Linked DNA regions of Homo sapiens: region 1 is linked to region 2. Evidence: fine-mapped expression QTL. A gene starts in region 2. The other region holds a variant in brackets. All regions are shown on one strand. Distances are between the middles of the regions.

What was found.
Region 1: its variant is fine-mapped to the expression of FMNL3 in whole blood (TOPMed, PIP 0.98).

What each region holds. Positions count from the first base shown.
Region 1 is chr12:49,664,132-49,675,175 of GRCh38, reverse strand. FMNL3 (formin like 3) reads left to right here. Exons shown (of 26, transcript NM_175736.5): 2 at 6,622-6,705; 3 at 8,969-9,049; 4 at 9,268-9,344. Among named protein-coding and RNA genes, the nearest start is that of FMNL3, 38 kb to the left of the region's middle. RefSeq lists enhancers at 517-596, 647-736, 960-1,658. The variant C/T (reference allele first, on the strand shown) is at 5,191.
Region 2 is chr12:49,701,425-49,712,468 of GRCh38, reverse strand. FMNL3 (formin like 3) reads left to right here and starts at 5,064. Exons shown (of 26, transcript NM_175736.5): 1 at 5,064-5,414. The coding sequence starts at 5,289. It overlaps LOC124902929 (a long non-coding RNA gene), which reads right to left and starts at 4,743. Exons shown (of 3, transcript XR_007063299.1): 1 at 4,630-4,743. It also overlaps the pseudogene COX5BP5. RefSeq lists enhancers at 4,481-4,630, 8,354-8,443, 8,464-8,553 and a silencer at 4,651-5,420.

The DNA of each region.
Region 1 (11,044 bases), 37 kb after region 2:
GGTGGCCTTAATCAGGGTTTGGGGACCTCAGGGTTACCTGCAGAGGTTATCTCATGTCAGGTATGAGGCCAACAGTGTGGCAGAGGAAAGAGTTTGAGGCTTTACCAACTTTGGGGACATGGCCAATATCCTTTGCCTTCTCAGGATCCGGTGGAGGAATTCTCTAGGATGAAGAAGAGGCCCCGGGGGTATAATTGTATTTAGAAAAAGCCATCTCTTTGTTTGAATGATGCTGGCCTTTTAGGACCTCTCCTTCATCTGACTTCCCTGGTGTGAACTGCAGAGCTCAACCAGAGACATCTGGTGAATCCATTTCTTTTTCTTCCAGGCTGCTCAGGGACTTGGCCCGTAACTGCTCAGCAAGTCATTTCTGGTTACAGAGTCCTCAGTGACCACAAAAGCACGTTCTCCAGACATGGTTCCGAGCCTGTGAGAGCTGGCTTTTCCCTGGCAGCTCATCACCAGAGTGGTAGCTTCAATTGAACAAAACCTGCAAGGCAGATCTAAGATACTACAGACACTTAAGGAGCACCCATTTTTCTTATGCCTTTTGTCATGTGGTACCTAAGCAATTTGTTCAGATGTCTAAGAGGGCAGCTGGGGCCTAGAGAAAGCTGTGTAGCTAGACTTGTACTCACATGCTTCTGTGTGTGGGGTCACATAAGGAAGGAGATGAGTAGTAATGGGGAGCTGCCCTGGGGAGGCTGTAGAGTTTGGCAGGACCAGGGCTGGAGGCCTAGAGTCCAGGGAGGTAACTGCTGCCTTTCATCCTTTATATTCTTGAGTGCTTTGGTGTGGTGGTGGGGTGGTACAGCTGAAGTGTTTGCCCCTACTCTATCGAGGCAGGGCAGGGGGTTGCCTGTCCTTCTGGCCAAGTGTTATTGACTGTTCTGTGATTTCCTTTCTGCCACAGGATATAGATCTTTGCCCAGAACCTTTCATAGTTGACTCAGCCCATTTCAGGCTGTCTGTTTCAAGTTATCTTCTCCAAACCCGAGCTCTGGAGAGGAGGATGGGAGGGAGTCAAAGCAAGGAGAGCAGTCTTGAGCTTTGTCTCCCCAGGTTGGCAGCGAAGCCAGGCTTGGCCTTGGTCTGTGAGAGCTGCAGTGAGATCTGACCATCCATCTGTTCCATTTCCTCCCCTGTGCTACCCCAGCCAGTCACAAGGCTGGGGAAAAGTGTGGGTGTTTGGAGGGGCTGCCGTACTTCCCATGTCTGGACCTTTTAAAATTTTAGCTCTTGGACCTTTGATCAAACTCTCTGATTTTTTTTGATTCCCTTTTACAAAGGATTGCAGTTTTGAGGGGAGTTAGAAGGAGCTGTGCTGGAACAATGAGATAAACAAACAGTGACGTGGAGGCGGCGGCAGCAGCAGTGTAGGCAATGGGCTGGGCCGGCTGGCCTGCCGTCTGGGCGGGCTGGGTGGAGGAGGACTCCCGCCCTGCTCACTGGCCAGCTGGCTTGTGTTAAAGTGCTGGCTGAAAATAACTCTCATTGTCTAGGAGCTGCTACTGCGGCAGGACTGGCTGTGGCCGCCAAGGGGCCAAGGCAGCAGGAGCTGGTACCTCCCACCTCCTTGGGCTCTTGCCCTTTGGGAGCAGGGCCCAACTGGCCACAGCTGTGCCTACTGCCCACCAGTAGAGACATGTGGAGGCCGTTCCTTACACTCTGTCCTTTTGGCAGCTAGTAATGGGCCTTTGTGCCTTGTGTTGCCTGCTTTGCCACTGGCTTGGGGCAGATCTGTTGGTTTGTGAGGGGAATCCTAGTGGGAACATGGGAACATGGGGTGGGAACACTGTGTTACAGCTCCTCCTTCAGCAGTCTTCTGGACTCCCAAATTTTGTGTCCACTTGCCACTTTCCATCTTTGCTCATCTGCTCAATGAGCTGATCTGTGGATGCCACGGAGGACTTGGACCTGCGGTCAGGGGCTCAGCAGCACGTTGAGAAGTGTGTGGTGCCCAGGACAGCACTCATTTAATCTGTGGGGCAGTTCTAGATTCAGTTTCTCAGGACTCCCTGTCCCCATGGGCTGAGTGTGGGGGCTGAGGCTACCACACTTGGGAGAAGACAGCCATAGGAAACCTGGTGGGAGGTGGTTCAAGAGGGAAAACATTAATAAAACTACCTCTCACTTTCTGTATTTGCTCAAAACAAACAGCCCCTGCTGGAGCTTCCCTAAAGCCTCCAGTTTCTTTCCCAGGAACATTACAAACGTCTCTCTCCCTGTCTCTCGAAGCTATGCCATTTTGGTCTCTGTTCCTAAGATTTATCATGATAGGGACCAACAAAAACAGTTGGGAATTTTTGGTGGTTCCTATTTCTGTTTTTTGGGTTTTCCCCAGGCCTGGCTCAAGAAGACTGTCAGAGTAGGGGCAAGTCCCAGAGCAGAGCTCACAGCTTTGAAGGAAACTCCAAACCCTACCGGCATTTCCCTTCCCCTGCAGTGGGAAGGAAATGAGGAGGGGCTCACTGGGCTGGGGGTGCAGAGTGGGAAAGGGAAGGGAACCTCTGCCACCAGAGCTGCCTCCCTCCTTGGCTTGACTGGGGCTGTCAGGGGTCAGGTGGAGAGTTAGGAAACCTTGCTGGAGGGACCAGGCCTTGCTCACATGCACCCCATTGTGCAGGGAGATTTGCCTGGCCTCAAACTGGCAAACAGAGCAGCCTTGCTGGAGAAGCACCAGCTCCATGCCTTTCGGCTTCTTCCCATTATAGATTTTTATTATTAGATGTTTTGCTGGTTCCCTGTGATTTAGGAATCGGTCCCAGAGTTGCTTTCAGTTTGAGTTCATCTTCCCCTTTTCCTCACATCTCCTATTGTGACTGTTTTGGCTGTGACTTACCTCCCTTACTTCTTCCTTGGAGTCTCCTGCCATGTCCCCCACCCCTCAAGATAATGATACCAAAATTGGCGCCTAGTCTTAGAGGAAGCCAGAGCAGGATCAGTGAAGGGATAATGGATTGCTCTGTAGTCAGAGTGTTGCGAAGCAATTGCTGAAGGTGGGATGGAGGCAGAGAGAGAGAGACAGCCTAGAAGCAAGAGGGCAGGTCCCTCGGACATCAGAACATGACACAAGATTTTCGGGAGGAAGCAGGCGGTGAGGGGGACTGTGTTGAACACCCACAGTGTTCCAGACACATACAGACATAAAATATTTATCTTTTAATCCTCAGCTAAAACCCTGTGAAGTAGTGAGATTATCTCGTTTATGGATGCGTTCACCAAGGCTCCATAACTCTGAAGAGCCCAAAGTTGATCTTGGGCCCTCTGACTTCACCCACATTTAGTGCCCTCTCCTTTCCAAGACAGCCACTGCCTCCTTTCTGCTCAGCAAGGGTCTCAATGAGGAGTTAGCAAGAACTTAGCTCAGCTTCTGCCTTCTGGGAGCCTACAGTGTCTGTGGAACCACTGAAGAAAAAATGTCAAGGAAACAAACTTTTGACTGAGACCGGAACTGTGTCAAATTTGCTACTTTGCTGTCCCCGGAACTCAGGAAGTTGTCATTCCTAAGGGCAGAGAGGCTTCCTTAGGACATTGGAGCCCTGCCAGACTCACACACATTATCAGGTAGAGGCAAAAGCCCTGATGCCCTTGTCTAGCAGGAAGAGAACTGTCCAGGCCAGGCTCTGGTTTATGCCCCCTTGGCAGGTGGCTCCCACTGGCAGCCAGTGACCCGTTTCTTCTGAGAATGCTGGAGCTTGGGGGAATTCCCCTTACCCACCTCCTTCCCTATCACACTTCAGCCCAGAAGAAGCAGAGAAGTCTGAGACCACTGTCAAGAAAGTGCCACCCAAAGCTCAAGACAGGAGGATATGGCTATGGTCAGACCTACTTCATGCCTCTACCACCCGTTTCCATACTTTGGGATCATTCCTTCCTGGGGATCTAGAGTTTGACCAGGTCCCTGCTGTGCCTCTTCCATGCTCTTAGGCCAGGACTCCCCAAGGGGGTGACTTTGCCCAGTTTTTCAAACCGAGGGGACCAAGTGTTTCCTCATCAGTTCACCTGGTGGAGAAGTATGAGCCACAGCTGCTGACAGTGGGTGGCTGAGGGAGGAAGTTGGCATAGACAGGATGTGATGTCTGCCACAGCAGTGACAGGCTGCCCCCTCCTCCATTCCAGCAGCTTTCTTCCAGGGGAGACAACAGAAAACTATTTTCATGGCACAGACTTAGGAGAAATGGTCAGATGGCAGCGATGTGTTTAGGATATGCACAGAGCCAGGGCCAGTCCTGAGGACTATTTCTGCTCAGTTCTGTCTTGAGTTCATCTGGCAGCAGCCTGGCCACAGTTAGGCTGAGTTAGGAGATCTACTCTGGGTTGACCTTGAGTCCTTGTTTTGTTGAGGCCTCTTGCTCCTGTCCTGCTGTCCACACGGGTATGCTGAGATTGGCCTTAACAAAGTAGTTTCAGAGAGAACATTCCAGGCTTGTGTTTGACCATCTTGCCATCCATCCTACATAGACTGTGAGGAGGACTCAGCCTCACTTTCCTGTGGAAGTTCAGGCAGATGCATAGTGCAGCAGGAACCATGGGGAGAGGTATGATGTGGGGCTTTCTTCCCCTTCTTTGTTTCTCTCACCTGCCCCACTTCTTTGGTCCTAAATTCTTCCATGTATAAATTCCAACTGAAGACTTCAACCCTACTTCCTTTTTGAGCTATAGTGACCTCGTTTCCAGCCAGTAGCTGGGCTTGTAGCTCAGACCTGGGACCTCTTCCACATAAGTTTATTATCACCTTACTGCCCCCACTAGATGCATATTGGGAGCTGGAGATGGTGAAAATAGACACAGCACTTTAGGGGCTAGATGAGTATACAGCTGGTTTAGGAGTATATCTGAGTTATGTTTATAATAAATAGATAATATGACAGAATAAATGTTTGGGATTTTCTTTTGGTTCCATCGAAAGTTAGAGGACCTCCTTCTAGGATTTGTTTGCCTCTTCTGGAATAATGCAGGGCCTATGTGACTCCTCAGGGACCCTGGATGCACACAGTTCATGTCCCCAGGGATGAGGATGCCAAGAATTGGGCAGAGGTAAATGAAGTGGTCATGCTTGGGTTACCAGGGAGTTAGAGCTGAACCTGGACAGTAGTTAAAGGAGAGAAAGATGAGAGGCAGCCTTCTAGGTGGCTGGCACTATGCTTAAGAAGAAGCTGAATTTGTGGGAAGTCACATGGGTGATCA[C/T]GCAGCTGCGACACTTTGGGTAGGCGATCATATTTGATTCAAGATTACGAGGGAGCAGGTACAGTGGTCTGATTAAAGTGTCAGACTGCCTTTATTCTTTTTTGTTTGTGTGTTTTGTTTTGTTTTGTTTTGTTTTGTTTTGTTTTGTTTTGTTGAGATAGAATCTTTCTCTGTTGCCCAGGCTGGAGTGCAGTGGCGTGATCTTGGCTCACTGCAACCTCCACCTCCCAGGTTCAAGCAATTCTTGTGCCTTGGCAACCTGAGTAGCTGGGATTACAGGTGTGCGCTACTGCACCCATCTAATTTTTGTATTTTTGGTAGAGATGGGATTTTGCAATGTTGGCCAGGTTGGTCTTGAACACCTGGCCTCAAGTGATCCGCCCACCTCGGCCTCCCAAAGTGCTGGGATTACAGGTGTGAGCTACTGCATCTGGCCCAGACTGCCTTTAGAGGTAAGGGCTGTGACCTGGAACAAAGACAGCCAGACTGATGAGAAGAAAGGTTTGACTGAATGGGGATAAAGGTAGGGAACGTAGCCTCCTAGCATGGGTAGGGCTAGTCCATGGATGAAGTCCTTAGGCTTCACTCACTCATTCTCTCGTACCTTATTCAGTCACCAAACAGTGGTGAACAAGATAAAATGATTCCTGGTCTGTCCTTCAAATAGCCTGTATTAGAGTGGCTTGCCAAGGGGTTAGGGTGCTTTGCTGTGTCTTAATTAATTGGGAGGTGTTTCATAAGAAATTTGCTACTAACAATTAAAGTCTGGTACTTTTGTGAATTTTTGCCTAAAAATTCTTTTCCAAAAAAATTTAAGCAGTTATCTTCATGCTAATGTTCTTCTCATTCACTTGTGTGCTGATATGGGCAAGAGGGTCACAGTTATAGCATCTACATAGGTTGTGGGTGGCTCAGGATTTGCCCATGGGAATGGATGTTGTAGGCAAGTTGCCCATCTCTCAGGTTATGGGGGAAAAGCAAACTGAAAAAAATTGCTGCTTTAACCTGGTGGGTTTTCAAATTTTTTGACCCATCTCATGTTCCCGTCACATTTTATGGTATGATGTATGTATATGACATATTTGTTTATATACATAAAATAGAAAAGAAACTAAAGCTTCACAAAACATTATTTATACTTCCGAATTCTGGTATCTTCTATCCTATTTTAATCAGCTCGTTTTCATTTAAAATAGAGTTAATTTTGACTGATTAAATTGATTCTACTACCAGTGGTTTGGAAAACATTGCTCAACCAAACATGAAGGGGAGGCTGGAGGACTGTTCTACCTTTCCAAGCCTGCCTTATCAGCGATGGAGTGTCAGGGTGAAGTCTGAGGGCCCAGTAGCAGAAAGGTGTGGGCAGTCTAGTCTTTCTCTTTTCCAGATGAGGGGAGGTTTCAGCCTTGTTGACTCAGGTTCTCTCCTCAGAGCTCCATGAACCTGCCTCCAGACAAGGCCCGGCTCCTGCGGCAGTATGACAATGAGAAGAAATGGGATCTGATCTGTGACCAGGTATGGGGTTTGGGAAAGAGGAGGGAGGTAGGGAGTTGTGTCTTGGGCTGGCTAAGGCTGTGGGGCCAAAGGCATTGAGTGCAGCCTTGGGTTCCTTGAGGAACCCTGGCCTAAGCTTGGCCTCATCTGTGTTCACTTTCTTTTCCAAGAGGATTCTCATAACAGAGACAGAGCTGGCAGGCCAAGTTCCCCTCTAGCTCCCACAAAGAGCTGTCTTGATTTCTTCCAATGGGCAATAGTATAAGGGGATTTGTGTAGATCAGGGGTATAGGATTGGCTGTGCAGGTTCAGGGCTATGCCCGGTAGGGTGCTCAAAGGACTGTTGATCTCTCACTCTGTCTTAGCCCTGGCAAATAGCAGGGTCTTTCTCATTATCTCAGGGCCTCTAGGAATGAGAAGCCCCAGACTCTAGTCTTTTGTTCCCAAATCTCAGAAGAGTCAAGGTCTGGAAACTCTCTCTGCATGAACAGTGTTGAGAGCTGGAAGAGAATAGAAATCATTACTTTGCTCAGAGTTGAGAGTCTTCTAACACATATGACCTGGCTCTTTCCCTTGCATGCATTTGAAGATCATGAGTCACGAGTCTGTGAAATGAGACAGGACTGTATGCAGGGCTGGGAGAGTTGGCTTTTACCTTTTTACATCTTGGTAGAGATGGAAGTATCTGGCAGTGTGGGTAGTGTGTTTACCCAGCACTTTGCCATGTACAATTTTATTATTTCTTTTCAGGCTCTGGGTGAAATAATAATAGGTAACATTTATTGAGTGCTTGTTATGGACCAAGTACTCAACACACTGAAGTATCTCATTTAATCATCACAGAACCCTCTGAGGAAGGCAGTGTTGGCATTTTATAGATGAAGAACCCAAGGCTCAGTAACTTGCCTAATGCTAGTAGGTGATGAAGCCAGGGCTGAGCTCAGGCAAGCAGATGCCAAGTCTGTGTTAACTGTTCTGTTCCACTGCCTCCCCAGGTCATGCTGCTTGACGTAAGCTAGTAGTATGCTTCAGAGATCTTAGTCCAAGTCCCTTCTCCAACAAAGGTCCATATCCTTGTGTTCTGCATTAAGAGGAGTTGGTTAGCACCTGCTTGGGGTTTGGAGAACAGTAACCCTTTGATATTGAGGGTCTTTAATTGATCTCTCAGTCTTTCCTAGGTCAGATAATTTCAGCTGTTTCTCACACCTTTCGTTTTTTTCTTTGATTTGTTTTTAGGTCCTACTCTCTAACATTATATCATTCTCCTGGACATTTTTCAGCCCCTCCACCCACCAGCTCTTCAGATATCTTGGTGGTGGCAGCTCTAATAGGACCAGAATGCTAAGGGGTACTCCCTGAGTTTCTTTTTGGGTCAGATGAAGGGGTTGGCCTAAAGTAGGACGTGGTCCCAGGTCCTAGGTAGAAGGGAATCGAGGGATGACCTTGCTGAATGCAGCCTTCAGTATTTGAGGTTGCTTTGGATTGTTGGGAGTCTGGGCAAGGAGCAGTGTTTGCAGCCCTGAGCTGTGTCAGCTCAGCAAAACCATTCCAGTCCCAACTGCAGAGTTCATTGCTGAGAAAGTTGGATTCTACAAAGCCAAGCTCCTCTCCCCTTGGCCTTCCTAACCCATATCCATTAGTTGGCCAGGCAGTGAACAGCATTTCCCAATCATATCTTTTTTTAATTTTTTTTTTAGAGAGGGATCACACTCTGTTGCCCAGGCTGGAGTGCAATGGCATGATCATATCTTACTGTAGCCTCAAACTCCGGGGCTCAAGGGATCCTCCCACCTCAGCCTAAGTAGCCAGGGCTACAGGCATGTGGTAGCCACCATGCCTGGCTAATTTTTTAAAGTTTTTTTTGTAGAGACAGAGTCTTCCTATGTTATCCAGACTATTCTCAAACTCCTGGCCTCAAGCAGTCCCCCTGCCTCGACCTCCCAAGCGCAATCAATTATATCTTTATTTTGGGTGCTGTTCACAACTCTGTAATCCCCAACATCTTTGTAGCAAGCAGCACACTTTTAAAATACTTTTTGACATAGAAAAACATTTTAGGCTCAGGGAGCACTAATTGGAGGAGGAGGAGATGGCAACAGGTGGTAACACCTGGGGATAAGTCAAGGAAGGGAACCTCAAGTTTAGGTGATATCTAGAGCCAGGTGACAACTTGGAGAGGCTGAGTCCCCCTCACACTGAACACTATGAATGCTCTTCTTCCTCAGTGCCCTCCTCAGGTCTCTGGTTGTCTTTGTGGATACGCATATGCATGTTTCCCTTACAGGAACGATTCCAGGTGAAGAATCCTCCCCACACTTACATTCAGAAACTCCAGAGCTTCTTGGACCCCAGTGTAACTCGGAAGGTGAAGTATGAGGCAGAGAGTCCCCGTCTTGCCACCCTTTATAGTCCTGTGGGGTTTGGGGGCAAACCCTTTGACTTGGATATTGGACATCTGTTTCTGAGCATTGGGAGTTGGATTTCAGGGTTCTGTGGCCAAGGGCCTGGAATGGCTGGCCAGTAATGGAGGGAAAGTCTATAACTGCCCTCTTGTATTCCCTTCCTTTCCTACCCTTTTTACAGAAGTTCAGGAGGAGGGTGCAGGAGTCAACCAAAGTACTAAGGGAGCTGGAGATCTCTCTTCGCACCAACCACATTGGGTGAGTTGGATTGGCCGTATAGCCTCTTCATCTGGCCCCAGGCTGCTGGCTGGGCACACAGGGTCTGGTGTCCTCTGAGGATGGTGTTCCTGTTCATCTTCCCTGCCATGGGGCAGAGTTGCCCCTTGAATGGCTTCTGGCTCCCCAGAGCTTTGGACTGGTTCTTTACTGGCTTTTCTACCCCCTCAGCTCTGCCAGCTGCTGACTAGATGTTTCTGGCAAGCTTGAGGCCTCTCCTGGGGTCCTCTGCCTGTGGCTTTGAGTGGAAGACATTCCCACAGCAGTTGAGACTGGAGTCTGCCTGTGGCCTGGTGCTGGGCCAAGCGAGGCTCAGAGAAGGCTGAGGGTGGGGAGAACATACTATATTGGGTAGCTGAGACCTAGTTCCCATTCGGTGACTATTTGGACTTTTTGGTGCCTGGAAGTTTATTTGCTTGTTTGGGAGAAGATAATCTTAGTTCATGAGCAGAAGCTTCCTTAAGCACCAGGAAAGATGTAAGGCACTGGGGGCAGGAGCTGAATGTTTTCTATATTCACAGACCCTGGTGTCCCCAACACATTGATAGGGCCCTTAGGAACTGTGTGAGTCTTTTTTTTTTTTTTCCAGTCCCTGAGTGGGAAACCAGGAATTGCTGAACAAGCAAAGAGCTAATGTGTAAGGTACAGTGAAAGAGGGTATTGGCCTCAGTGTTACGAAACTGTAATCAGCAAAGGTATATGCAAAGGTATATGAAAGTGAGAGAGAGAGAGAGAAAGTGTGTATATGTGTGCGTATGTGTGCTTATGCAAAAGGACAGTGAGGGACACGTGATGTAGAACTGCAGGCAGGGGTATAGACCTGATGGGAGGGCCTGGCACAAATGTCCAGTGCTTATGAGTGAGCAGTGGAGGCCCAGGTGGGGGTGGGGTGCCCAGGCTTCCTGACAGGGGGTTAGAGACAGCCAAATGACATCATTAGCCTTTCCCCTCCTGTTGTAGCAGCAGCCCTCATCCGCCCCCAGGGCAAGCCTTCCCAGGATTCTTTAGAGGGAGGGGACACCTGTGTGTAGCCAGCTGTAGCAGCAATCACAAGGGAAACAGCACAGGAGAGAACAGGAAAGGGATGGTTCCTGGCCTCAGTAACTGTGCTCTGGTGGCCAGAGTATGGCTTCTGTACCTCATCTGTGAATCAGACATTGAAAGTCAAGCTGCTGAGAAAGGTGTGGCCAAGCCTCTTCCTTTGTTTGGTCAGTCCTTCACTGACTTCACTGACTGAAGGACAAAGTGGCAGGGGCTGCTTAGTACCCCTGTGTGTGAGGGCAAGAAGGACACCGATGGCAACCCTGAGTGCTACCTGCCACCCTGAGCCCCCTACCACTCCGCATTCCTCCATAGGTCCCTTCTGTCCCTCTCAGCCCTTCTGTCTTCTTTTTGTTTATTTGTTTTTTAAGACAGGGTCTTGCTCTGTTGCCCAGGATAAAGTACAGTGACATGATCATGACTCACTGCAGCCTCAACTTCCAGGGCTCAAGTGATCCTCCTATCCCAGCCTCCCAAGTAGCTGGGAGCACAGGCACACACCCATGCCTGGCCATTTTATTTTATTTATTTATTTATATTTTGAGATGGAGTCTAGCTCTGTCGCCCAGGCGCCATCTTGGCTCACTGCAACCTCTGCCTCCCAGGCTCAAGCCATTCTGCCTCTGCCTTCCGAATAGCTG
Region 2 (11,044 bases):
CGGGAGGCTGAGGATGGAGAATCACTTGAACCCAGAGGTGGAGGTTGCAGTGAGCCAAGATTGCACCACTGTACTCCAGCCTGGGCAACAGAGTGAGACTCTGTCAAAAAAAAAAAAAAATTAAACAGCACAAGGCAGTAAAGGAACCAAGAGTTACATATCTACAAGTTCCAAATGAAAAGTAGAGAAAACAAGAGTCATGATCATTTGAATTTGAGAAAACTCCAGGATGGGATATGAAACTTGGTACCCACCAATATAATACCAATGATCTTACACGGTTCCTTCAAACTGGGTCCACACTCCTCCGCTCTACCTTGCCTCTCCTGCACCAGACTTGGAGCTCTTTTGAAGTTGGCAGCAGGTCTCTTGTTCACCTTTTCATCTTGCATTCTTTCTTTATCTACCGGCATCTAGTCAGATGTTTTGCACATAAGCACCCAATAAACCTAAAGATTGTATTAAGCCTGGGTGGGATTTGGATAGATGGAGTAGAAGGAAGAAGAAATCCAGATCAGGGACGCAGCAGGAATGTGTTAGTTTCCTGTTGGTTCTCTAACAAATTATCACAAACGGTGGCTAAGAACAACACAGATTTATGATTTTATAGTTCTAGAGATCAGAAGTCTGAAATTAGGTCTAACAGAGCTCAAATTAAAGTGTTGACAGGGCCATGTTCCTTATAGAGGATTGAGGGGAGAATCTGTTTCCTTGACTTTTTTCAGTTTCTAGAAGCTACTGCATTCCTTGGCTCATGGCTCCACCTCACCCTGACTCCTGCTTCTGTCATCACATCTCCCTCCCTCATTTTGGCCTTTCCTCTTATAAGGACCGTTGTCATCACATTGAGATCACCTGGAGAGTCTTCTCATCTCTAGATCTGTAACTTAATCACATCTGCAAAGTCCCTTTTGCCATGTAAGATAACATATACACGGGTTCTGGGGATTAGGACATGGATACTTTGGGAGCCATTATTCTGTCTACCACAAAGAGCAAAGCCAGACATAAGAATGAGCAACTAATGTTTGGAGATGGACCTTTCCAGCTGAAGCAAAGGGTTGATTTGATTAGAAGACATTAGCGTTTAGAGATAGACCCTCGAATATCAGAATAAGGAGTTTTAGTTTTATCCTACAGAAAGTAAGCATTTAAAGGTGGGTGAGCAGGCAGTTAACAATGAAAGAAGTAATCTAGCAGATCCCCAAAGACCCTAGAGTATATAAATCTGGTGGTTATGCTTGAGGCAAGCAAAAACAGAATTAAAAGGTTAGGGACTAAGAAACCACACAAAAGGTGAATACACTGCTGTTCACTGTCCTATCGAGTTTCTTCTTTTTGCTAGATGTTCCTTGTGCATCCATGATAAATGGTGAATTATTTCCCTTCTTGAATTCTCAACTTTTGTCTAGTGGAAGTCTACAGTCTTGTTATAACCCCTCTGCTTAGAAGAGTCTGCCACAGCAGTTGGGAAGGCACGTATTTAGGGTAAGAAGTGGAGATGAAGAAAGGGGATAAGATGTGAACTGATTAATTTGTTCACTGATTAGAAGAGGCTGAGCTTCACAGGAAAGGGTTTCAATGGTTTGGAAAGACAGGGACTCTACCTCTTGGTTGTAAACAACAGGAACCCAATGCATAGTGAGTTAGAAAAAGAATTTACTAGCTTTTGGCTAGGCGCGGTGGCTCACGACTGTAATCCCAGCACTTTGGGAGGCTGAGGCGGGCAGATCACGAGGTCAGGAGATCGAGACCATCCTGGCTAACACAGTGAAACCCCATCTCTACTCAAAATACAAAAAAATTAGCCAGGCGTGGTAGCAGGCGCCTGTAGTCCCAGCTACTCAGGAAGCTGAGGCAGGAGAATGGCGTGAACCTGGGAGGCGGAGCTTGCAGTGAGCTGAGATCACACCACTGTACTCCAGCCTGGGCGACAGAGTGAGACTTCGTCTCAAAAAAAATAAATAAATAAAATAAAAAAATAAAATAAAAAAGAAAAAGAATTTACTAGCTTTAATAGCATCTATATGACGATGATTTCCAAATTTACATTGCCAAATTGCATAAATTAATAAGTAGAGCTGCTGCTTGTCGCAGGCATGATGGCTTCAAGGTTACTTTGCACAGCTGGAACGCTGGCCATGAAGGCTTTGAGGGCTTGCAGTCCCAGCGGGGTGCAATCGCAATAAGACATATATGAGTCTGAAGAGCAAACTCATTTATATCCAATTGCTTAGTGGATATCTTTACTTGGATGTCCAAAGGGCAAATCAAACTCAACATGGCCCAAACTTGTTCCTGACCTTCCCTTTCCAGTTCCCCCTCACCAAACCTACTCCTCCTATCACTTCCCCCATTTCAATTAGTGAAAACTCCACCATCTTTGTTGCTCAAGTCAAATACTTTGCAGTTATCTTTCATTCACCCTCCACATTCAAACTATCAGGAAATTCCATCAGCTTTACTTTCAAGTCTTTAATAAGGAATCTGACCATTTCTTTCCACCGGTACAGTTACCACCCTGGTTCAAACCATCTCTCACCCAAATGATTGCACTAGCCTGCTAACTAGTCTCCCTGTCCATACTTCTATTGGTTTGTTTTCAATGCAAGAGCCAGAGTGATCCCTGTTACAAAACATGTTAGATCATACCACTCCTCTACTCAAAATCCTCCAATGGCTACCTATCCTACTTAGAGAAAACCGAAGTCCTCACACAATAGCCTACAATATCCTACACAATATATGGCTTCTGGTTACCTTTCTGACTTCATCTTTCACTACCCTTTTCCTTGCTCATTGCACTCCAGCTACACTGGCATCTTTGCTGTTCTTCTAATACATCAGAGATAGTATGCACTTGCCATTCCCTTTGTCTGGATAATTCTTCCCTAGATAGCCACATAGCTTATTTCCTTGCATCCTTCAGATCTTTATCCAAATGCTATCTTATTAGTGAGTCCTTCCTTGATCATCCTATTTAAAATATTTATTATGAGGGAGGGGAAGAAGGAGCCAATGCAATGACTAGTCTTTATTGGAGAGAAGATACTTTACAGCACATTTTGAGCAATTAGTGCCAGGGCTCACTGGGCCAACTTGTGGGACATCAGCTTGTAATGGGTTCATAGTTAGAGCATCACTGGGTCTCGCCTTTGTGCAGCCAGAACCAGTTGACAGCACTGTTGTCCTCTTCACCGATGCAGCTCACTATTATCTTGGTGATGGAGGGAGCTGTTAGGGTCTTCCCTGGTGCCTGAAGCTGCCTTTGGGGGTAATATATTGTATGGGTCCAATCTCATACATGGCTGTCATGAACTCCCTCTCCAGCCCAGTCATCTGCTTGTCATCAGTAGGAACGCCACCTCCAGATGCCATGAAGCACACTGCAACCACCCCATTGGGACTGTAAGCCCTCAGGCCTATGCGGCTAGCGCTCCAGCTCTGAAAATTAACCTTGAAGCCATCATGCCTGTGACAAGCAACAGCTGTGTTTATTTATTTATTGAGACAGAGCCTCACCCTGTCACCCAGGCTAGAGTGGAGTGCCATGAACATGGCTCACTACAGCCTCAACCTCCTAGTTTCAATTGATCCTCCTGCCTCAGCCTCCCAAGTAAGCAACTCTATTTAAAATCTTAATGCCTCTTCCATCTCTATCACCTTTCAGTTTTATTTTTATTAACACTGATCACTAACATCTATACATTTTACTCGTCTAGTTTATTGTCTACCTTTCCTTCTACACAGATTGTGAATTCCAAGAGGACACAATGTATATCCTGTTTGTTCGCAGATGTACCTTCAATGCCCAGAATAGTATCTGGCATAGAATAAACTTTCTAAAATAAATATTTGTTGAATAAATGAATTAAAAATCTAGGTGATAACTTCAGGCATGGTTAGATCCAGGTTCTTGGCATGTCATTAGAATTTTGTCCTGTCTCATAGCTTTTCTCTCCTCTGCGCTGGCTTCATTCTCAAGCAGGCTTGATGTGTTACAGGTGATGATAAGACGGCCACCAGCGGCTGCAGGTTTACATTCTAATAATTTTGCAGCCTAAATGGAGAGAGAGTGAGTGCCTCTTTCCTGATTGTTTCAGAGAAAGCCTTGGATATATCATATTGTCTGGGCTTGGGTCAAGTGACAATCCCTAAAACAGTGTCCATGGGTAGAGGAGGAAAATGTTGTGACTGACTGGGCCTGGGTCATGCGGTCCTTTGGAACTGGGGATAAAATTCAGCTCCATTTAGACTGAGAAGAGGGGAGAGGTGGTTTCCTAAAAGAAAAGGGGGTGCTCTCACTGGAAGAAGATGGCGGCTAGACAACAAATTTCCACCGCAAATGTCAACGACCCAGCCGCCGACTGAGCCCAGAACAGCGTTCTTCTCCCGCCTCTCCATTTTCACACGCAGCCAGATGGTTAAGCTTCTCTCCTCCCAAACGTTTTTTCCCCTGCCTCTGTCGGGTAAGGGCTTCCTCATCCCTCAATGCCTGGTCCAACTATGATCTCCCTCACCCCGACTCTTAACAGGTACTATCTCTCTCCCTCTTCTGAGTATCCTGCTTGTTTCTACTTCTCTTGTAGTTAGTTTTGTACGCCATGCCTTGTATAATATTTTACTTACTTGTATACATCATGAGTTCCTTTTGAAAAAGGGTACGGTCCATTCCCGGTGTGTCCACGCCAGCCCCTCACGCCCTCTGGGAACCGCGGTGATTCGATGCCGGCTGAGGCCGCCAGGGAGCGCTCGGCGCCCGGCACGAGGCCGTCAAGGGCGGGAGGCGCTGTGATTGGCAGACGCGGCCGTCAATCGGGCGCAGGTGGGGCGGGCCGGGCCGCCTGTGAGGCCTCTGGGCGGGAGGCGGGGCCTGCATGAATGGGGCGCGCGTCGCGCGGGCTGCAGTCGGCGCTCGCGGGGGAAGCCCGAGTCTCGGCCGGGTGTGGGTGGGAGGAAGCGAGGTTGGCGGGGGAAGGGAAAGAGCGCGGGGGGCGGGGAGGGGCAGCGCCCGGGCGGCGCGCCGAGCGCGGCGAGGCGGCGGGTGTGAGCAAGAGCCGGCCGCCTCCGTCCGCCTTGCTTCGGTGCGGCTGTCCGCTACGCTGCCTCCGCCCTCGCCGCGCGCCCCCGCCAGCGGGACTCCAGGGAACCCCCGGCGCCCTCGACGGGGCCGAGGAGTCGGGACTCGGGGAGCCGGCGCTGAGGGAGGAGCCTGGTCGGAGCCGCGGAGCCGAAAGCTCCGGAGCGTGGAGGTGGGGGGCCGAGGCCCCTGAGGGGGCCCCGCCGCGATGGGCAACCTGGAGAGCGCCGAGGGGGTCCCGGGAGAGCCCCCCTCTGTCCCGTTGTTGCTGCCGCCCGGCAAGATGCCGATGCCTGAGCCCTGTGAGCTGGAGGAAAGGTTCGCCCTGGTGCTGGTGAGAGCTGAGCCCAGCCCCTTCCCCCGCGTACCGCCCCTCAGGTCCCGACGCCCGGGCTGGGACTTTGTGCTGGGCCCCCGTCCCGCCCACCCTTTCAGTCGGGGTCCCGAACGGATCCCGGCCTCCAGTGTCTTCCCAGGAACCTCTGAGCAGCCGCTGGCCGGCCCGGACAGCCCCGTCGGGGATCTCGGGACCGACGCCTCCACCGCTGGACCCTTAGGAGAAGTCCCCAGTTCGGGACCGTCCTAGGAACCAGGCTTCTCCCTCCTTCTTCCTCCCCCTTCTGCTGCCCTTTTCCCGTTTCCCCGCTTCTTCGCCAGGCTCCCCGTCCCTAGCATTCTCAGCCCGGAGCCTCTCGCGGGTGGGGGGAATTCAGAAGCGCGGCCGGCTCGCTCCTCAGCAGGCTTCCCTGAGTGGGGACACCGCCTCTCCTGCGAACATGGAGGCTTCCCAGGGAGTGGGTCCCACTCCCAGCCCAGACCAGATGTTTGGGGGGAGAGGGGGATGGGGAGGCGGCTGGCAGCTCCTGAAGGGGGTGGAATAAAGAGTATGCCATTCTGCTTATTTTCAGAACGGCCTGCAGGCATCCTGCTAAGTTAGAGTGGATTTGCCTGAAAGGCTGAACATGTGGATAAACCATTTCACTGGGGTATTTCTCCAAGTGAAACAATACACAAACCATCCCGCCTCCTCCCCCCCTTTTCACGTTAAGCCATAGTGACTGGTTTGTGTTGTTTAGCCTGTGCTTTTTAGTCTTTCTGTGGGTTTCAAACGGTCTGTATAAATGGGTTTTTAGAGCTGACTTTGGGATTCTTCTTTGGTGTGGGAATTGGACATTGATGTCAGTGGCTCTATGAAGCGAGAGGTTCTGAGCTGGTATCACCGGGAAGGAGCCAGAAAATATGTTTGCGCTGAAAATGAAGTTTTGCAGAGCGAAAACATTGGTAAACCGGGGTTAATCTTTGAGAAATTTGGGGAAATAGTTCTCACTTCCCCAAAGAGTTTTCTAAGAAGCAGTAATAATTCTGGCGTTATTGTTGGTATGGCCGACTCTGCCTTTGCCTCTGCCCATCAGGAGGGATAAGTTGTGGACTTAGCAGCCTTATTGGATTTCATCTGCCTTGGAATAAGGAGATTAGATCTGTTGGCAACAGTGGAGCTGTCTAGAGATCTTGGCCTCTCCGATGGTAGAGAATCTGACATCAGCCCACTGGCACCAGAGCTGGCTCAAAGAGGGTCCACAGTGTTCCAAGGGGAAGTGGTGTCGCTGGCACCTCTCTGCCCGCCAGCTCTGCGAAGGGCCAAAGGGATGTGGGCCATACATCCTGTGGCCCTCTGCATTTCCCCCAGCCTCCTCGGGGGATCGGGTGAGTCAGTGATTACCAATGTGCTGTGACCATCTCACAGGCTGAGGAGGAGAGACTGGGACTTAGTGGCCTTGAGAACAAGAGCCCAACTGTTGGGGAAAAGAGTGGGAGGGGATCTGCACTCTGGTGGGGGTGTGAAAATCCCCAGCAAGCTGACACAAGTTAGCTATAGAAACTGGGGAGAAAGGGATGGGGTGAGGTGGATTGGGTGGGAGGCTGCCTTAGGTGGGAGCTGCCAGGCCATTTTTTGTGAGAGCTCAGAACCAGAATCCATCATGTTCTCATTGGCCCTTGGTTGACCATTTCGTTTAGTTAGCAAACTAATGGCTTAATATTCACAAAATGCACGTGATGTCCTAGTTAACCAGGACACCAGAGCACCAGGAGAACCCAGGTCAAATGGGGGACTGGACCACCCACTTGCATGCCTTCCTTTCTGTATAAAATTTTGATTTGTTTCCTCATGCCTTTTGTTTTGGTCTTGTTTCTGTGTGCCTGAGCTGCTGCTGATGAAGGGTTGGAACAGGGCAGGCCAGAGCTAGTTAGTTGTCTCAGGAGACGGGATTTCACCTCAGTTTTCCAATACAGGGAAATCATCCCTTCTTGGGGATTTGAGTTCTTCTCTGGGGGCTCTTAAGTGTCCCTGTGTCCACTGTTCTGAAAGGTACCCTTTCTACCATGCTTTGGGAACAGTACTGACTGAGTCAGGTGTTTGACCCAGGTACAGGCTTAGGGGTATTTCCTGAACAGTCAGGAGAAGCATAGTGTAGTAGAAAAATCAAGGACTCTGGCTTAGCAAGTATCTTAACTTCTCTGAGCCTAGACTTCTTCCTCATCTGTAAAATGGAGGTAATCCTGTTCTGGTGAGATTGTGAGAATTAGGTGAGCCCCTGTATATAAGGTGCTTGGCACCCAGTAAGTACTCAATATAGATTATAGATTAGCTTCTTTTTTTTTTTTTTTTTTTTTTTTTTGAGATGGAGTTTGGCTCTGTCATCCAGGCTGGAGTGCGGCAGCACGATCTCAGCTCACTGCAAACTCAGCCTCCCGGGTTCAAGCAGTTCTCCTGCTTCAGCCTCCCCAGTAGCTGGGATTACAGGCGCGTGCCACTAAGCCTGGCTAATTTTTGTGTTTTTAGTAGAGATGGGGTTTCGCCATGTTGGCCAGGCTGGTCTCGAACTCCTGACCTCAGGTGATCCACCCGCCTTGGCCTCCCAAAGTGCTGGGATTACAGGCATGAGCCACTGTGCCTGGCCAGATTAGCTTATTTTTGTTGATGGTGTGAAACAGTCAGATAAACTGTTCCTTTCTCACCTTTTTCTTTCCTAGATTGTCAGCTTCATTATAATTGGTTAGGTTTTTTGAAAAAGCTATTTGGGAGGTTTGTTGAGGTGACATAGTGGTGTCCTGGTTAAGCTTATGGACTTTGAAGTCAGAGTGGATTCAACTGTTTCATCCATAGTCTTTGGTTAGAAGAGTGTTTGACCTCAAGCAAGTTACTTAATCTGATTCCCAGTCTTCTCTTATACATGGGGATAATAATAGCATTTGCCACATGAGGTTGTTGTGTGGATTTAATGAAATTGGAAGTCAAATACTTAGCAGAGTCTGGCATCTACTATATGCTTAGTAAATGGTAGCTTTTAAGTTTGTACCTCTCAGCAGTGACTCAGATCTGAGATCACTTGTGTTCCGAAAAAGGGGTTTTAAAGTTTAGAAATCTGATAAAACCAATTACCCTGTTGTGTATATCCAGTCTCGGAATATGGCTGCTGCTGTAAGCTGGAGGGCTTCCTTAGCCCCAAGTGTGTCTGTGGAAAACCCCCTGAAGAGTATCCTCGCTGGGGAAGTTGTATCAGTGCTGAGTCAAGACCACAGGCTCCCAGCCTTCTGTTCTAGACACATGATCTGTCAGCCAAAGTTGAAGAGCTTGAGATGAGGGCTATGAGAAGATTTGATGAGAACATTGATTCCAAGAATCCTAACCCAGCCCAGTGCCTTAATTCAGGGCTTCCCTACTAGTGTGCTGCAGATGGATCACAGATGTGCTGGAATACTGATCCCCTTATTCCTAGGGGCAGCTAAAGTTCCCAGTCAGTCCCCTCTGGATGGGATCAGCTTCTACCCCATGTACTGTAGAAACAGTAATATTTTCTAGGTGTGCCTCGATGGGAAAAAGGTTGTGAAGCTGCTGTGTTACACTGCTTCTTGGCATCCTTCCTTACCCCCTATCTGAGTAGCACTTCCCATTCTGTTGGGTATTGAGAAGTTTGGGGTTGGGGCAATTAATGGAGCTCCTCTTTATGAATACCAGAATGAGAGCCAATCTCTGGTCTGATACAGTCCCAGTGTGTTTTGGTCCAAACTAGATTACTACCCAAACTCAGTTGCTCAGAAGCTAGTATTCTGGCCAGTACTGGACTTTCCATAGAGAGGGGAGGCAGAGGGCTCTAAGGTCTTTGAAAGGATAGCTGTCTGTCTTTGTTGTGATTGTACTCTGATTTTTCTCTTTGTTGATTTACTACAGACTTGACATGGAGTCTAAAAGTTCTGATGCCAGAAAAAGCCCTGTATATCCCTTAGGAGGAGGCTTTCAGGGCATAAGGGTAGGGTTGTGTGACAGGAGCTATCCCTGCTGCAGTTTCTCCTCTCACATTTCCCTGGTGATGACTGACAACTTGGGGGTTTTTCTGTAAGTGTAGCATTGATGTGGGAGCTAAGCTGGCCTGGGTGCTAGTTGTCTAAGAGGCTTTGAGGGGCCTCCTTTGACACAGAAATGGGCTGGGAAAAACTTGGACTAAATATCAGGTTCCAAATCACCATGGTGGAAATTTTTTTCCCAGCCCTCAGGATTGTGGTGAATTAGTTCAGGCTAGAATAGAACTTGGGAGGGGGCAGGGAAAGGGCCTTTCACAGCAGCTGGTCAGAGGAACCTTCTTCTTGTTCAGAGACCCCACAGAGAAGACCCTAGACCACAGAGAGGAGTCTTATTCCCTTGACCTTCTGATATGACCCTGCCTTAGTCTGGGGGAAGCCTGTGTGTGGTGGGGAAGGGACTGATGGAGTGGACTCTGTCATTTGGGAATGTTTTCATTGCCCAGAGGGAGATTCAGCGTTTTTTTGTTTTGTTTTGTTTTGTTTTCCTCTTAAAGTAATACTTATTCTCTAAAGAAAGTATGGGACAATTCAGAAAGAAGAAAAGACTAAAGATTTAGGTTAAAGAAAAACATCCATATTTTCTCTAGTTTCTTTACCAAATGCAAATATTTTCTTAGTTCCTTTACCAAATGCAGCTGATGTGCTTTAAAACCTTTATATTTTTTTCTCTGCATAGAGTTTTATACAATGTTTTGATATTTGATTTATTTATTTAAGACAGAGTCTCGCTCTGTCACCCATGGTGGAGTGCAGTGACATGATCATGGCTCACTGCACCTCACTGCAGCTTTGAACTCCCAGGCTTGAGTGATCCTCCTGCCTCAGCCTCCTGAGTAGCTAGACCACAGGCGTGCGCCACCATGCCTGGCTAATTTTTTCATTTTTTGTAGAGATGGGGTCTTGCTTTGTTGCCCACATTGGTTTCAAACTCCTAGGCTCAAGTGATTCTCCCACCTCAGTCACCCAAAGTATTGGGATTTTAGGCATGAGCCACCATGCCCTGCCAGTATATATGTTTTTTATCCAGTTTTTTTGTTTGTTTTTTGCTTTTGTTATTTCATTAGTTTTCCCAGGCTAGTAATTGTAAGTGGTTTGTTTTTGTTTTTGAGACAGTCTTACTCTGTCACCCAGGCTGGAATGCAGTGGTACAATCTCTGCTCACTGCAACCTCTGCCTCCTGGGTTCAAGCGATTCTCCTGCCTCGCCTCCCAAATAGCTGGGATGACAGGCGCCTGCCACCACGCCTGGCTAATTTTTGTGTTTTTAGTAGAGACGGGGTTTCACCATGTGTTGGCCAGGCTGGTCTCGAACCCCTGGCCTCAAGTGATCTGCCCACCTCGGCCTCCCAAAGTGCTGGGATTACAGGCAAGAGCCACCAAGCCTGGCCTGTAAACATTTAAATGCTTGTACGATGGTCCATCAAGTGAAGGTACCTTTGTTTGCTTACCCATACACCTTTTCTTAGATATTTAGGTTTTTTGCTTCTGTTTGTCATCATAAACAATGCTGTGATGAACATCTTGGTGTACAAAGTATTTTCAATATTTAGAGTTTTCCTTGGGATAGAAACTCAAAATAGAACTTGCTAGATTGTAGGATATA